3 separate regions of the Homo sapiens genome follow, and regions 1 and 2 are each reported to be linked to region 3. The links are microRNA targets in miRTarBase. Many come from high-throughput screens and were not tested one by one. Region 3 holds a microRNA gene; each other region holds the end of a gene's coding sequence.
The links. Region 3 holds the annotated microRNA hsa-miR-519e-5p (UUCUCCAAAAGGGAGCACUUUC, at 1,731-1,752, shown strand). A microRNA usually pairs through its seed, bases 2 to 8, with sites in the 3' UTR of a target mRNA and lowers its output. Matches are read on the target gene's strand: a 7mer-m8 pairs with bases 2 to 8, a 7mer-A1 pairs with bases 2 to 7 and ends in A, and an 8mer does both.

Region 1: the mRNA of TGFBI is a reported target of hsa-miR-519e-5p. Seed matches in the 3' UTR shown: 7mer-A1 at 3,649-3,655.
Region 2: miRTarBase lists ZNF148 as a target of hsa-miR-519e-5p. Seed matches in the 3' UTR shown: 7mer-A1 at 2,338-2,344 and 7mer-A1 at 1,914-1,920.

Annotation. Positions count from the first base shown.
Region 1 is chr5:136,062,067-136,067,287 of GRCh38, reverse strand. TGFBI (transforming growth factor beta induced) reads right to left here. Exons shown (of 17, transcript NM_000358.3): 16 at 4,601-4,625; 17 at 3,470-4,102. The coding sequence ends at 4,062. Among named protein-coding and RNA genes, the nearest start is that of TGFBI, 36 kb to the right of the region's middle. RefSeq lists a silencer at 4,511-4,610.
Region 2 is chr3:125,227,853-125,233,073 of GRCh38, forward strand. It overlaps ZNF148 (zinc finger protein 148), which reads right to left. Exons shown (of 9, transcript NM_021964.3): 9 at 1-5,221. The coding sequence ends at 4,489. Among named protein-coding and RNA genes, the nearest start is that of SLC12A8, 18 kb to the left of the region's middle. RefSeq lists a silencer at 3,979-4,179 and an enhancer at 4,113-5,221.
Region 3 is chr19:53,678,223-53,683,443 of GRCh38, forward strand. It overlaps MIR519E (microRNA 519e), which reads left to right and starts at 1,718; the gene lies at 1,718-1,801. MIR515-1 (microRNA 515-1) reads left to right here and starts at 781; the gene lies at 781-863. MIR520F (microRNA 520f) reads left to right here and starts at 3,937; the gene lies at 3,937-4,023. All of the region lies in intron 2 of LOC107985342 (a long non-coding RNA gene), which reads left to right.

The sequences.
Region 1 (5,221 bases), not on the chromosome of region 3:
GCCACACAAAACTCTCTCACATTTTCTCAGAGCCTTTATGACACTGTTCTTCAGACTGAATTCTCTTCCCCACCCTCTTCATTCTTCAGGTCTCAGTGACCTCCATCGCCTCCCCAAGTGATGGGGAGCTCCAGCACTGCAGGGACTGTTAGGGCCTGCATGGGTGACAGGGTGTAGCAGCTCCAGGGAGCCTCCTCTAACAGGCCTGAGGCCAGAGCTCCAGCTGCTGCCTTCCACCTCCAGGTCCTGGAGTCCTCTCCCCAACCACAAGTGGGTGTGCTGTGCCTGTTTTCTCTGCCTAAGGCTGTGTCTTCGGTTTCCCATGCAGGGGTGTGTGTGCATGCATGCATGTGTGTGTGTGTGTGTGTGTGTGTGTGTTTGTGTGTGTGAATGAATGTGCGTGTGTATAGAGGTTGTCCCAGACTCCTCCCCTCTCCACCCACCACTTATTCTCTGGGCTGGCTCTCTGGCTTTCTGGAATGGATGAGTTTCTTTCCCTGCCAGATAGGGATGGCCCAAGGTGGCCTCATTTGACTTCTCTGGACAGGGCTTCGGGCCCATCCCTCATTCCATGACTTTCTCTCCTGGCTTTGAAAAGAGTTCTGAGCATAATATTCCAGGCATCTCTTCTAAGAGCATAACACTGAATTATGCTTTCAAGCACAGAGGTATTTTCCTCTCTTTTTTTCCAGACATGAGTTCTGGGGCACTCGTGGCTATTGCTAATTCTTAATGCCCTGGCACCATAGAAACAAGTTATGTTCTAGGCTGTGCAAGCAGAGACCTGGCCTGCAGGGGCTTCTCTGGAGGGTAGGGGGTTTTGAGCCCTTCTGACCACCTGGCATTCATGTCTGCTTGTCCATGGCTGCCTTGACTACCCCTCCTGGCCTCTGGTATAGTTGAGCAGAAGGGAGAAGCGTGGTTAAGAATGGCTGGATTTGTGTTTCAGCCTCTTCTTATTCTGTGACCTGGCAAACTACTTTAGCTCTCTAAGCTTCTATTTCTGCAGCAGTAAAATGAGAATTTTAATAGTACTTACCTGTGTCATAGTATCAGTGCAAGTAATAGAAAAAATAATGCACATAGGTGCATAGCCCAATACAGCAGGCCTCTCTGGCCCCATGGCTGAGCTGGCCTCTCAGTTGGCCAATGTGGCCAGGTTTAGGCCACCCCTGTCCCCTGTGTGGGAAAGGCATACCCCATCCTGGGAGGCCTCAGGGCCCAATGCTGAGGGTCTTTGCAGTCCTCTCTACATCCCAGAAAGCTTTGTATTCCCAGAGTGACAGCAAAGACAGAAGTGGACTAAGAAGAGCCCATTCCCCTTCTTCCTCTCCTTCCATTTCCTTGGTTGGGGCTCAGTGGTCAGGGCTCAGGCAAGGCCTGGGCAACCTCCTTCTAGCTTGGGCTACCCTCTGGCCTTCTGATGGGGTGAGGCACACCTCCCTCCCCAAAATCACCCACCCCTGGAAACACACAGTGCTGGCCCCTCAGCTCTAAGGGTCCATCCTCCAGATGGCAGCCCTAATGAATGCTTAGCCCGAGTCTTCATGAGAAAAGAAGGGGTATGGATGGTTAGGAACCAAAAAAGGGAATCTGACCTTCTTTGGTGGGAGGGGAAGGCTGCGCCTTGTCCTCAACCACAGGGAGGATTTCTCTCCAGGGAGAGTTTGGAGCATAGAGTGGAGCCCACATTACTAGGGGGTGGGGCAAAGTCAGGGCAGGGAGTGGCAGGGACAAATGAAGGGGAGAACTGGAAACACACATCTTAGTGTTTGGCATTTATAATGGATCCTGTAGTGATTTTTACTTTAAATTTAAGGGTCTTTAAAACTTATGCTGATCACCTCTTTGGTTTCCGAGGTCATCTTGGTAAAGTGCAGTGTGTGTATTTTAGGTGCTCAAAGTGAAGCATAGCATAGGATACCCAGCATGAGCAAGGCCCTCACTAGCCGCCCAAGCCCGCATGGCTGCAGGGGAGGTGGGAACAGCAGGACAGAGCTATGGGAGAGTGACGGGAACTGAATTCACACCCAAGGTTAAGCCTTACCTCTCAGGACACCTTCTCCCTTGGTCCCCTAGCCTGATGCCTTCACCTTCAGGTAAGTTCCTTCCATTCCTCTCATCTCTTCCCACTTCTGGGAGCTCCTGGGCATTCCTGCTTCCAAATCCTTCATTATCTGTCACAGAACCACAGTGCTATCCTCAGAGTCACTAAGAACACACAGGCTGTAGTGCCATTATCTGGTTGACAATTCTCTTCCCCCCCATCAGTAGAGAAGCCTCATGAGAATGACATGTCTATTCCCCAGGGTCTAACATGGGGGTGCACATAGGTAGCCCTCAACAAATATTTGTGGAACCAATGGATGAATGATTTTAATGGATTGATGTCATATCTCTCTTTCCTCAGACTGGAAGCTATTTAAGAGAGGGCCTCTGTCTGCCACTACCATTGCTGTATTCCCAGCAGCAGTGGACTGACCAGCAGTAGTGCTGGGGATATATCTTTGGGTCATTGGTTCCATGAAGTGAAATGAGCTCCGCCTGCTGGAGTGAATCAGCCTTGGCAGAGATGGGTGTGGGTGGGAAGGAGGTCTGTCCCATTCTCTAGGAAAGTGGGCCAGCCCACCTGTGGGAAAGACACAAATAAAGGCTCTCTGGCGCATTGATCCTGAGCAGTCCCAGACGGCAGGATAAAAATAAGGCCACCTAATGTTGTACCAAGCATTTTATATAGATCATCTCATTTCATCCTCACGATGGACCCATGAAGTAGATGTGACGGTCATCTCCCTATTACAGAAGAGGAGACCCTGGGAGGTCACATGACTGGCCCCAGGCCACACAGGTAGGGGGCAATGGCACCACAACCACATGATATCACCTCTCAGAGTCCTGAGGATATTCTAGATGCCAGAGATTACGGGAGCCGGGGAAGGAATCTGAATGTGGGTTGGCACAGAGGGGATGGGCCTGGAAAACCTGGACTTATGCTGTTGTCAGTGGTGGTCACTGAGAGTCAGGAGGTGTGAGTTCCAGTCCCAGCTCAGCTATTTTACGTGCTGCTGGTGGTTCTCCCTTCCCTGGGCCTTGGTCTCCTCATCTGCATAATGGGATTATGCTGGCAACCACTTCACAGGTTGGTGCTGAGGACTCAAAAGTCCAGCACACAGGCAGGGGATCACCATGCTGGAGGGAAGGTACTTCCAAGTAATAAGAGGAATAAAGTGCGGGGTGAAGGCAACACTGAAAACTTGAAACCCCAGGACCGGAGGAGGGTGAAATAAAAACCTGTTTGGCAAAGACAGGCTCAAACCCCCATGAGCTGTCTGGCTGTCTGAGGGCTGGCTGCTGGAATCTCCCCAAAACCATCCCTCGGGGCTCCTTTCTGAGCTTCTCCAGAGCAGAATTGAGGTGTGGAGGAGCATGACGGCCTCAGGTCAGCACACTGTACCATGCACACAGGACGTATGTTTCTTTGGTTTTATTATTACAAACACACCATGGCTCTGTCACAATAGGGAAATCTAAGCTCTACATACCATTTCTTTTCTACCTGGACAGGGCCCCATAAAAGCCTCCAAGCCACGTGTAGATGTGAGACACATTTGACAGAACATTTCAACTCATAGCTTATAATGATGCCATTTCTCCAGCTGTGCAAGGGCTTTACAAAAACTGTGCCAGGACTTCCCATGAGGCTGGATTGCTTGATTCATGTTTTATGAGCCCCACAATACTGAAGCTCCTTTTCCAGGGACTTGGCATAGGCAGTCAATTCCACATTTGGGATAGGTCCTCTCTGGAAGTGAATGTCAGGCAGTGACATCCAAGTTTCTGCATGCAGTGGGTTAACAGCCATGTTTAGGGGGAACATGATTTAAAAAGTACATCTCTCTCCCTCCTCCCCCACATGCACAAGGCTCACATCTCATTATGGTGCGGCCCATGTACATTAAAGTGTGATACTTGGTTTTGAAAACATTCAAACAGTCTCTGTGGAAATCTGAGAGAAATTGGCGGAGAGCTGCCGTGGTGCATTCCTCCTGTAGTGCTTCAAGCTAATGCTTCATCCTCTCTAATAACTTTTGATAGACAGGGGCTGAAAAAGAGAAGTTGGTAACGTCAAATAGGTGCAGATCTCCCCATGTCTGTCTAGGACACTGTCAGAATCTCAAGGACCAGGGCCAAGCAGCCTCCTTCTGCCATGCTCTCCTGCACATAGCAGGTGCTTTGTGGTTTGTGAAACTTCACTCTTTACTCAAGGCCCGATGTTCTGGTTTTCTGTACCTATCAACTTGGAACTAGATCCTCACCATGGGTTCCTGCCAAGCCCTTTGCAATATTCCCAGACTTCCTAAGCTGAAAACTCACCTTAACCCTAAAAGGTTGTTACTCTTATTATCCTCATCTTACAGAGAAGGAAATGGGGTGCTCTGGGTCTGACCCCAAGTCACCCTGCTGTTCTGACTCCAAAGGCCAGGCTTCTTTTACTGCACCATGATGTTCTTATCTATATACAGCAGATGGCAGGCTTGGGCTTGCTTGGGGGTAAGGCCTAAACAGGTCTGCAATGACTTCAAACCCAGACCAGACTCACCTAGTCGCACAGACCTCTGGGAAGCCTGAAAGAAAACACAAGGTGTCAGGTTTTCTAGTGAAAGTTATACCTGCAACTGCTTATGACAATGGCTTTGCCCATTGCCACCCCTACTCAGAAAAAATGCTGGGGCGAGGAAGAGGAAGGGGAAGGTGGAACTTATAGGCACCAGGGAGTTCCTCAGGTGGCCTTGGCAGACATAAGTTGTGCAAGCCCCTATCAAGTGTGCCTTCAGGTGGACATTCCTAGGAGACCCCCAAGCCAGGCTTTCCCACTGAGACTACAGCCTAGAGTTGAGGGAGCTGGGGCTGCACAGAGGTGGCCTCAGGAGTAGAAGCTCAGGGCCAAGAATCCTTCTCGAGGGCACTAAGGAGACCCCTGTGTACAAAAGTAAAGTGACACAGTAAGCTCCAGGCCTCTGGGTTTAGGATGGCTCCCTGCAGCCTCTCCTCTTGAAGTGCAATCTTTCTGTAAGGCACTTCACATTCCCAAGAGGCTCCACCTGACCCGAAGTAGCAAAAGAGCCAAGTGGGGCACTGAGCACTGGGCAAGCTGGGGAGCAGGAAAGGAAGCTCAGAAAGAGCCAGAGAGGGTTTGAGAGGGAGGTGGGGCTGGGGCAAG
Region 2 (5,221 bases), not on the chromosome of region 3:
ATGTAGGTCATATACATTTATAAATTGGCGGTTTTATTTCTAAAGCAGTGATGTGTGTGTTCAAATAGCTGTCCTGTACAGTATAATATCTACTCACTTGAAACTATAATAGGTTTGTCTTTCTTTGTATTGAAGTTGAATAAATTCATCTGATCAGCTGAGAAACCAAGCTTGAAAAATAAGTATCTAAAAATCAATGTAGAAAGTTTAGAATTATTGAAATGTAGTTATGAAATATGAAGAGAACTATCTATTTCACAATGGAGCTGAAGTCACCTCAAAACTTACGGGCTTGAATCTAAAACAGAAACAAATATTAAAATCCAAAGCAAATCACAAAGTTAGGTAGCAGTACAGAAGCAGGAAAAAAAACCACATCCCTTCCTTCAGTGTGATGGGCACTAAGTTTTGCGGTCTTCCTCCATCTTGCAGAAGAGTGGTAAGGCCATTCAATGCTTAGTGAAAGTGAGTACAGATGAAGTCAGATTTAGCCTGTCTCCCCTGCAACTTCAATTATGCTGTGTAAACAGTGTTACGTTCCAATAGGAGGAACAATGGAATTTGCTTATAAAAACTGATTAAAGATAATCATTATTAAATGAAATAAGGATAATTAATAACTCTGAAATGTTTTTAGAACTTTCCTGATGCTACTTGTAAAGTTAGCACTGCTATGTATTATTGCTTACATACAGTACAACATCATATGCCTTCTAACATAAAGCAGTACTGTGATTTGTTTGTACATATTTACAGATTCTTAAAAACAAGCTGTAAAAACATTACATACTTTCAGACAATACAAATTAGCACATTGGTACTCACTTCAAAACAAATGGAATGCATAACATTAATAAACATCATAAAGGAAGACTCACATAAAAGTCCTTGATTGTCAAGACACGTTTATATATAAACTCTAACTGTGCAGAATTAAAGATTCAATCATAGGTACATCCTTATTTGATGAACCATATTTACAGCATGGTATTGCATAAAAAAATAAAATAATGTTTACAGGGTTTTACTTTTTTATCCATTGGATTAAAGAAAGCAACAAACATAACAAGAAATGTTTGTCTGCTTTAGTTTGTTTCCTACCAAAGTTTAAGTGAAAAAAGGAAACACGGTTTTTATTTGCAGAATATAGCAAAACAACTGGAAAATTATTTCCCTGAAATAAAGCAATTTGAAACGGAAAATTAAATTAAATTTCAGACTCAAAATACTTCTCAATGATTATTATAGTGCTTCTTCAAGTAAATATACTGTGAAAAAAAAATGAGTTCTAGTTTAAAATGTTCTAAGAAATGCAGTACTACAGTAATGCCTACTTTTAAAGTTTCCCGGCCTTTTTTTTTTTTTTTTAAACAGCCCTTTAAAAACCCAAATTAATCAAATGAAAGAAGCGGCAAAAGATCTAACCTAGCTGGCACTCTGCAAGTGTCTCTCCTCTGTGGAAACGAAATCCTGCCCTGAGCACAATTCTTGACATAACTGCCTTCTGCCTCTTGAGATAAAAATGACCTGACCGATGGCTGGCACCCTCAGCCAGAGCTAAGAAGATGGATTCCTACCTTGTTAAGTACCACATTTGCATGTAGACCCAAAACGTTTAAGAGCCACTTAAATATTCAAGACAAATGAAATATGTGAGAATAAGGTTTTAAAAAACCCTTTAGAAGATGTTCAAGAGATACTGCCTCGCCTAACGTGATGTTTCCAATCTTCAAACGTGAGTAGGTCCCAAGAGGAAAAGCACACCTCACTCAGATTGATCAAAAGTTTAAGGGTGTACCAGCATGTTTTTATAGAACAATGTGCTCACTTTGAGAAATGAGAAACATGAATTGCAGAAGAATATCTCATATCCTCCATGTTTCAATCTGAAGCAGCACACAAGGCTACTTATTTTCTCCATTAATGCCCAGATAGAAATTAAATAACCTTCTGAACCAAAGTGGGGAAATCCAAAACTGTTGAGATGTTTGTCATATTATGATAGAACAAGGTAACTCTGGTAGGCATTTGGAATTTCACAGTAAGAGAGTGATGACTATACGTAAATGGTAAGTCAATAAGTTATGCTGGCTGAGTATCACTTATCTAAAAACTGCTTATAACCTGGTAGAAAAGTCTGCCATTATGTAGATTTAAAGAAATGTGTTGAAAACAGGAATGCAACACCTGAAAGTCTGCTTGCATAACTACCATTTTCAAAGGCCTTCCTTCCCAAGCTCACCCTAAATGCTCAGCAAGAGTCACATTCTAAAAACTATGCTGGTGATGTTAAAACAACCGAAAAAAACCTCTCCACTGTATCAAAATTGCATCAAGTTCTCCATGAACAAAATTTTTGATCAGGCTCCAAAACAACTCAAGAAATAAATGCCTACTCTCACCAAAAGAGAAAAATACCAATGCCTATTTAGGGTGAGCACAGTTCCATTTTTAACGTATCACCTGAATGAAGCCTTTTTGTAATTATGTAATGCACAACACAACACACACAATCTTAAGAGTCAATAATGGCAGAACTTAAATATTTACTTCAAAGAAGTCTTAAATTCTTGAAAACTTTGGCAGCAAAGAAAGCTGTCAAACGGGAAAACTACTATTTCAAGCAAAACTTAATAACCAAAGTATACAGGAAACCACATTAAATATAATTTATATTCCTTATCATAAAAACACCAATATATTCAAAATAAATGAAGGATGTTAAGGGTGGATAGTTATTTCTTCCCTTTCTTTATGAGAACAGTCTTGGGATAACATTAAATAAAAGAAAAAATAATTTAAATGGATAACATATTCTATATTGAAACAAAGACTGCAGAGCTATAGGGCCAGTATAAGAGTCAAAATGGAAATTAAGAATATTTTCATTTTCCAAGGGTATTAATTTTAGATTTTCACTGGTGCTATATCAGGATGTGCATTGTGACAACGATGGCAGAAAATTTAAAATGTAAAAATGAAAAAGTTGTAACAAAGAGTCAATAACTAATATAACTTCCAAAAATCAAAACTGCCCAACGCATAACTCAAACCATCATTCTTCAGAAAAGTGTGTGTGTGTATATATACATAAAAGCACTATTTATTGTACCATGCTGTATTATTTTAAGACAGAGTATTAAAAAAAAACATTCATGGTATAAGGATAAAGTCTGTAGTTTATTTAGATTTTGAAATGCAACAAAAATTTTCCGATCACTCATCTAGCTGAAAAAGAAATGGTAGTTACTGGAATTAGTAAACACTTTTGGTTTGTAAAGTTGTAATGAGCAGTGTTCATTAAAAAGTAACTCAAGATAAAATATGCAATTAAAATGCCCATTTCTTTAGTTTCTCTGGATACTGTTTAATTATCCAATCTATCAAGAGTCTAGAAAGAAAAAGATTAAACCAGGTTTTACAGTTCCAAAGATATCCCAATTTCCTTTTATTGCCAAAAGTTAAAATTGTCAATTACGAGATGATTATGACACAACCATATCAAACCTAAAAATCTAATTTTTTTTTTACTTTGAGAAATCAAAAATACCAAATAGATTCTAAGTGCTCTATGTTAACTGAAGTGTATATGTAAAGTAAAATACAATTAAGCTTTAAAACGTGGAATATACATTTTGTGTAAGCATTATGTTCTTGGGAATGTAATCTACAGAATTTCTTTTACTAAAACTTCAAAACCTTGATACCTGCACATGAAAAATCATAAAAAATATCTAAGTACAACTGTACAAAGAAACTGACACCAATATGCATACTTCCATAGAGAAGTGACTGCTTCAACAGTTGTGTGTTTTGGTAAAAGTTCTGAAAGTATGCATATTTTTAAAGTAATTAGGCTTTTAAATAGTGGAGTCTTAGACTATCAGATTTTTATTACTTTTTTTCCTTCAAAAAAACACGTCAATATAATGCAAAATGAAAATCAAGGGTATATGGCATATCATTCTTTTTAAAAGGTGGTTTCTTGGTTTTTTTCCCCCTATAGGACACACTAATTTATTTAAGCCATAATCTCTTGACATTAAACTTTTAAGTTCACTCTGTCTGTAAAGTATACTCAGATTCCCTGCTGAAGTGCAATGACTATGCTGAAAAACTTAGAAACAGTATGAGTAAATTTCACACAATTACTAATCTCCTAAGAATGTACAATGTTATCAGTTAGGAAACAATTGTGCGAAAGTCTTTTTTTTTTCCTTTTTAACTTGGTGTGGGTGGAATAGCAAGTTTCTGATCTAAAACAAGTAATGCATTGCTTCTATAAAGGTGACAACATGTAAGGCAGTTCAAAGAATGCTGACTAACCAAACGAAATGCAGTTATTGGATTATCTTGCTATTCATATCAGCTTAACTTGTTATTACGCATTGCTCTTAAATCTGTACAGCACTCCATTTACACAGAGTAACCCCACTCTTGATTAATCTGTTCTAAAGTGCCAGTATTATTTACACTTTTTTTTTTTTTTTAGCCAAAAGTCTGGCCAGTTGTGGCATCAGGTGAAGATGTCATCCCAGCTCTATTATCATTTACATTCACCAAGGGAAATTCTGAAAATTCAGCACTTGTCCCTGGTCCCCGAAGGTTCACCTGTCCATTGGCAGTGCTAAATTGAGTAGCTATTCCAGCTCTTGATCCATGATAGGGAGCACGGAAGGGCTGTTCAAAGGAGCTCATTTGGTAAGCTTGGTGGACAGGCTGGGCCTCAGCTTTCTTCTGAGAAGTCACTTGATCCAGAAAGTCCTGTGTTGATGTGGCAGAAGCATGGTTTGTCTCATCACCTGAAAAGGGAAATGAGTGCTGTGAATCACCAACTATTAGTCCAAAGTGGGACTTATCTGGAGTTGTTCTTAGTGGAGAATTCATTCCTGATCGAAAGCTATTGATGGGCATGGTGGCATAGACCTGCTTGTCTATGGAAGAGAATGCTGGCTGATTTGGGAGGGTCTGGTTATCAGTCACAAAGTTAAGGCTCGGGCTATTCAAATAGGCATCATTTTGGCTAGTTCTGTCCAAAGCCTGCTGCAGAAACTTGGAGTATTCCTGCAACATGTTGGCTTTATCTGATGAGGATGCTTGGGAGCTTGATCCAACATTCTCTGACGGGGTGACCTCTGGTACTTCTGAAGAATTTATTGATATGCTAGAAGTCACTTCAGTATCTGCAACACTGAAGGATATCTCATGCTGTCCATTAGCT
Region 3 (5,221 bases):
AATGTACATTCTTTTTTTCCCCCCAGCTCTGTCAAATCTTACTGAGGAGCTTTTACGGCCTAGCCTGTGGTCTGTCCTGGAGGGTATTTGTGTGTACAACAATGTATATTCTTAAACATTATCTTAGATTCCATTTTGGATGTTCCCATCAGGACTGTGTGTTTCTGTGCTGGAACTCAAGTGAACACTGGCTCAACATCCTTAGAAATCCAGCCCAATTCTCTTGGTTAAAGATAAGGTATGTGTGGTAGGCATTGCTTTTTCTCTTTGGGGACAAAACTCAGGAGGATTGCCCCTTGATGAACAAGGCTAACCTGCTAAGCCTTTGAAGCAAGGAACTGGAGATGGTCCTTTCAGGGGTTTATGTTCTGGATTCCATAAAACATGCAAACAGGGGCAATGAATGCACCTTTTTTATTTTTATTTTTATTTTTTTTTGAGATGGAGTCTTACTCTTGCCAGTCTGGAGTGCAGTGGCACGATCTCGGCTCACTGCAACTTCTGCCTCCTGGTTCAAGTAATTCCCCTGCCTCAGCCTCCCGAGTAGCTGGGACTACAGGTACATGCCACCACAGGCGGCAAATGGTTGTATTTTTAGTAGAGACGGAGTTTCACCATGTTGGCCAGGATGGTCGTGGTCTCTTGACCAGCCTCCCAAAGTGTTGGGATTCCAGGCGTGAGCCACCGCGCCTGGCCAATGAATGCATCTTTATTTTTGTGTTCATTTTAATCTGGTAAGGTAAATTCCAACAAAAAACCCAGAGTTTTGGAGTGAGAAGATCTCATGCAGTCATTCTCCAAAAGAAAGCACTTTCTGTTGTCTGAAAGCAGAGTGCCTTCTTTTGGAGCGTTACTGTTTGAGAAAAACCACGTTGAAGTTGATGCTGATCTTGGTAACACATTTGCAGAGCGTGCTTATCATCAGACTTGCATGATGTTGGGGTTCTGTTTTTGTTTAGTTTTTTTGCAACACAGGGTCTCTTGCCCAGGCTGGAGTGCGGTGACACTTCCAACCTAGACCTCTTGGGCTCAGTTGGTCCCTGCCCCCACCCCCTCCCCCTTTTTTTTCTCTTGAGACAGTCTCTCTCTGTGGCCCAGGCTGGAGTGCAGTGGTATGTTCTCTGCTCACTGCAACCTCTGCCTCCCGAGTAGCTGGTATTACAGGCACATGCCACCACGCCTGGCTAATTTTTGTATTTTTAGCAGAGACGGAGTTTCATCATGATGGCCAGATTAGTCTTGAACTCCTGACCTTAGGTGATCCACCTGCCTCGGCCTCGCAAAGTGCTGGGATTACAGGCATGAGCCACTGTGCCTGGCCCACAACGTATATTCTTAAATATCATCTTAGATTCCATTTTGGTTGCTCCCATCGGGACTGTGTGTCCCTGTGCTGGAACTCAAGTGAACACATGGCTCAAAATCCATTGCTGTTCTCTAGAAATCCAGCCCAATTCTCTTGGTTAAATATAAGGTATGTGTGGTAGGCTTTGCTTTTTCTCTTTGGAGACAATACTCAGGAGGGTTGCCCCTTCGTGAACAAGGCTAACCTGCTGAGCCTTTGAAGCAAGGAACTGGAGATGGTCCTTTTAGGGGTTTATGTTCTGGATTCCAGAAAACATGCAAACAGGGACAATGAATGCATCTTTATTTTTGTGTCCATTTTAACCTGGTAAGGAAAATTCCAACAAAAACCCAGAGTTTTGGAGCGAGAAGATCTCATGCAGTCATTCTCCAAAAGGGAGCACTTTCTGTTTGAAAGAAAACAAAGTGCCTCCTTTTAGAGTGTTACTGTTTGAGAAAAACCACGTTGAAGTTGATGCTGATCTTGGTAACGCATTTGCAGAGCGTGCTTATCATCAGACTTGCATGATGTTGGGGTTCTGTTTTTGTTTAGTTTTTTTGCAACACAGGGTTTCTGTTGCCCGGGCAGGAGTGCGGTGGCGCTTCCAACCTAGACCTCTTAGGCTAGTTGGTCCCCCCTACTTTTTTTGTTGTTTTTGTTCTTGAGACAGAGTCTCACTATGTGGGCCAGGCGGGCAGGCAGTGACACATTCTCTGCTCACTGCAACCTCGGCCTCCCAAGTAGCTGGTATTATAGGCACGTGCCACCACGCCTGGCTAATTTTTGTATTTTTAGCAGAGATGGAGTTTCACCACATTGGCCAGGTTAGTCTTGAACTCCTGACCTCAGGTGATCTGCCCGCCTCTGCTTTCCAAAGTGGTGGGATTACAGGCATGAGCCACCCTGCTCGGACTGCAGGGTGTTTTTTTTTTTTTTTTTAATTATTATTTGTATTTTTTTGTGCTGCCAAAGCAAGCACTTGTGTGTAGGAATTTTGTTTGTTTGTTTGTTTGTTTGTTTGAGATGGAGTCTCATTCTTGTCGCCCAGGCTGGAGTGCAGTGGCATGATCTCGGCTCACTGCAACCTACGCCTTCCGGGTTCAAGCGATTCTCCTGCCTCAGCCTCCTGAGTAGCTGGGATTTCAGGTGCATGCCGCCACCCCGGCTAATTTTTGTCCTTTTGGTAGAATCGGGGTTTTGCCATGTTGGTCCGGCTGGTCTCAAACTCCTGACCTCAACTAATCCACCTGCCTCGGCCTCCCAAACTGCTGGGATTACAGGCATGAGCCACCGCACCCGGTGAGGAGTTATTTTTAATGTGAGCAAACAGTATATTCTTTTTTTTTTTTTTCATAGACAGGGTCTCAACAATATATGATGTATATTTAATCATATAGTCTTATCATGTATATAATGTAGTCATATGTACACCAAACCCTGTTCTACACACGGAGAATACTCTTGTATCACTTTGGGTATTTATTTACTTGTTTCTTTCTGTGTTTTTCTTGTTTGTTTGTTTGTTTTGTTTTGAGACAAGGTCTAGCTTTATCACCCAGGCTGGAGTGCAGTGGTGCCATGTCGACTTACTGCAACCTCCACCTGCCACCTCAGCCTCCTGAGTACTTGTCTACAGGTGCGCACCACCACACCCAGCTAACTTTTCTATTTTTTGTGCATAAGGTTTCACCATATTACCCATGCTGGTTGAGCTCGAACTCCTGAGCTCAAGTGATCCTCCTGCCTTGCCCTCTTTAAGTGCTGGGTTTATTGGTGTGAGCCACCACGCCCCACCCATACTTGTGTATTTCTGTATTTATTGAGGAGCTTATACAGCATACCCTGTGGTCTATCCTGCAGGATGTTTGTGTGTGAGACAGTGTATATTCTTGAACATAGTAGATTCCATTTTGGATGCTCCCATCGGGACTGTGTGTCCCTGTGCTGGAACTCGAGTGAACACTTGGCTCAAAATCCATTGCTGTTCTCTAGAAATCCAGCTCAATTCTCATGGTTAAATATAAGGTATATGTGGTAGGCATTGCTTTTTCTCTTTGGGGACAGAACTCAGGAGGATTGCCCCTTGATGAACAAGGCTAACCTGCTGATTCTTTGAAGCAAAGGACTGGAGATGGTCCTTTTAGGGGTTTATGTTCTGGATTCCAGAAAACATGCAAACAGGGCCAATAAATGCATCTTTTTGTTTTGTTTTGTTTTGTTTTTGAGATGGAGTCTCGTTCTGTCACCCAGGCTGGAGTGCAGTGGCACAATCTTGGCTCACTGCAAGCTCAGCCTCCTGGGTTCACGCCATTCTCCTGCCTCAGCTTTCCAAGTAGCTGGGGCTACAGGTGCCCACCACCACGCTAGGCTAATTTTTTGTATTTTTAGTAGAGGCGGGGTTTCACCCTGTTAGCCAGGATGGTCTTGATCTCCTGACCTCGTGATCTGCCCGCCTCGGCCTCCCAAAGTGCTGGGATTACAGGCATGAGCCACTGCGCCCGGCCCCAATAAATGCATCTTTATTTTTGTGTCCATTTAAACCTGGTCAAGGAAGATTCCCACAAAAAATCCACGGTGCTGGAGCAAGAGGATCTCAGGCTGTGACCCTCTAAAGGGAAGCGCTTTCTGTGGTCAGAAAGAAAAGCAAGTGCTTCCTTTTAGAGGGTTACCGTTTGGGAAAAGCAATGTTGAAGTTGATGCTGATCTTGGTAAAATATTTGCAGAGCGTGCTTATCATCAGACTTGGATGATGGTGGGGTTTTGCTTTTGTTTTGTTGTATTCCAAGACAAGGTCCCTGTTGCCCAGGCTGGAGTGCGGTGACACTTCAACCTACATTTCTTGGGCTCCGGTCGTTTTTGTTTGTTTGTTTGTTTGTTTGACAGGGAGTCTCACTGTGTGTCTCAGCAATGCAGTGGCACTATCTTGGCTCACTGAAACCTCAGCCTCCTGAGTAGCTGGGATCACAGGTGCGTGCAACCACGCCCATCTAATTTTTGTATTTTTTGCATTTTCAGTAGAGACGGGGTTTCACCGTGTTAGCCAGGATGGTCTCGATCTTCTAACCTCGTGATCCGCCCGCCTCGGCCTCCCAAAGTGCTGGGATTATAGGCGTGAGCCACCGCGCCCGGCCGAGAAACTAATCTTTTGAGATGAACTCTGAGATGTGGATTTTAGCTTGTTTGCAGCCACCACCACTCTAGTTTTGGAAGATTTTCATCACCCCGAAGAGGCTTATACTCATTTGCAGTCAGTACCCACCCACCTCTTCCACCCAGACCGTGGCAACGACTCCCCATCTCTCTAGCTCTGGATCTGCCTCTTGTAGGCCGGTCACGTAGACCAATCTTGTATGGGTGTCCAGTTGAGGATAATGGGTTGGTCCTGGTTGTCTGCAATGTGAATCTTACCACTGAAGGGTGGTCCCTGGAGGGAAGCAGGAGGCTGGGAGAACTGGGCGGAACATCCTTTGGGAATGGAGTGGGGCGGGCAGACCCTGATGTCTGGGAAGCTCACAAGGGTGGAAGACCCCATCTTCCTCCCTGAGAACTGCAAGGTGACCCTCCTGGGGCACTGGAAGGAGTGAAGGCCTCTGGGCTGGGAACGTCAGGGCACTGCACCGATGCAGGCAGGATGAGCCGAGGGGAAAGGAGAAGCAGGCATCATTCTCTGGGGACATTTTGGGTTTGATCTGGATGGAGCAGGTGTCTTCTGGGAGAGAGAGCCCCTGGGATTTTCACTCTGCTCCCTGGCTGTCTTAGTCATGGAATCTGACAACAGAGACTCCTGCCCAGGGCCACTTCATTTGGTTTCTGGAGCCCAGTGGTCCTTCCTGCCTGGACTTGGGATCTTTTGGGGAAGTTTGGGATCTGGCTGGG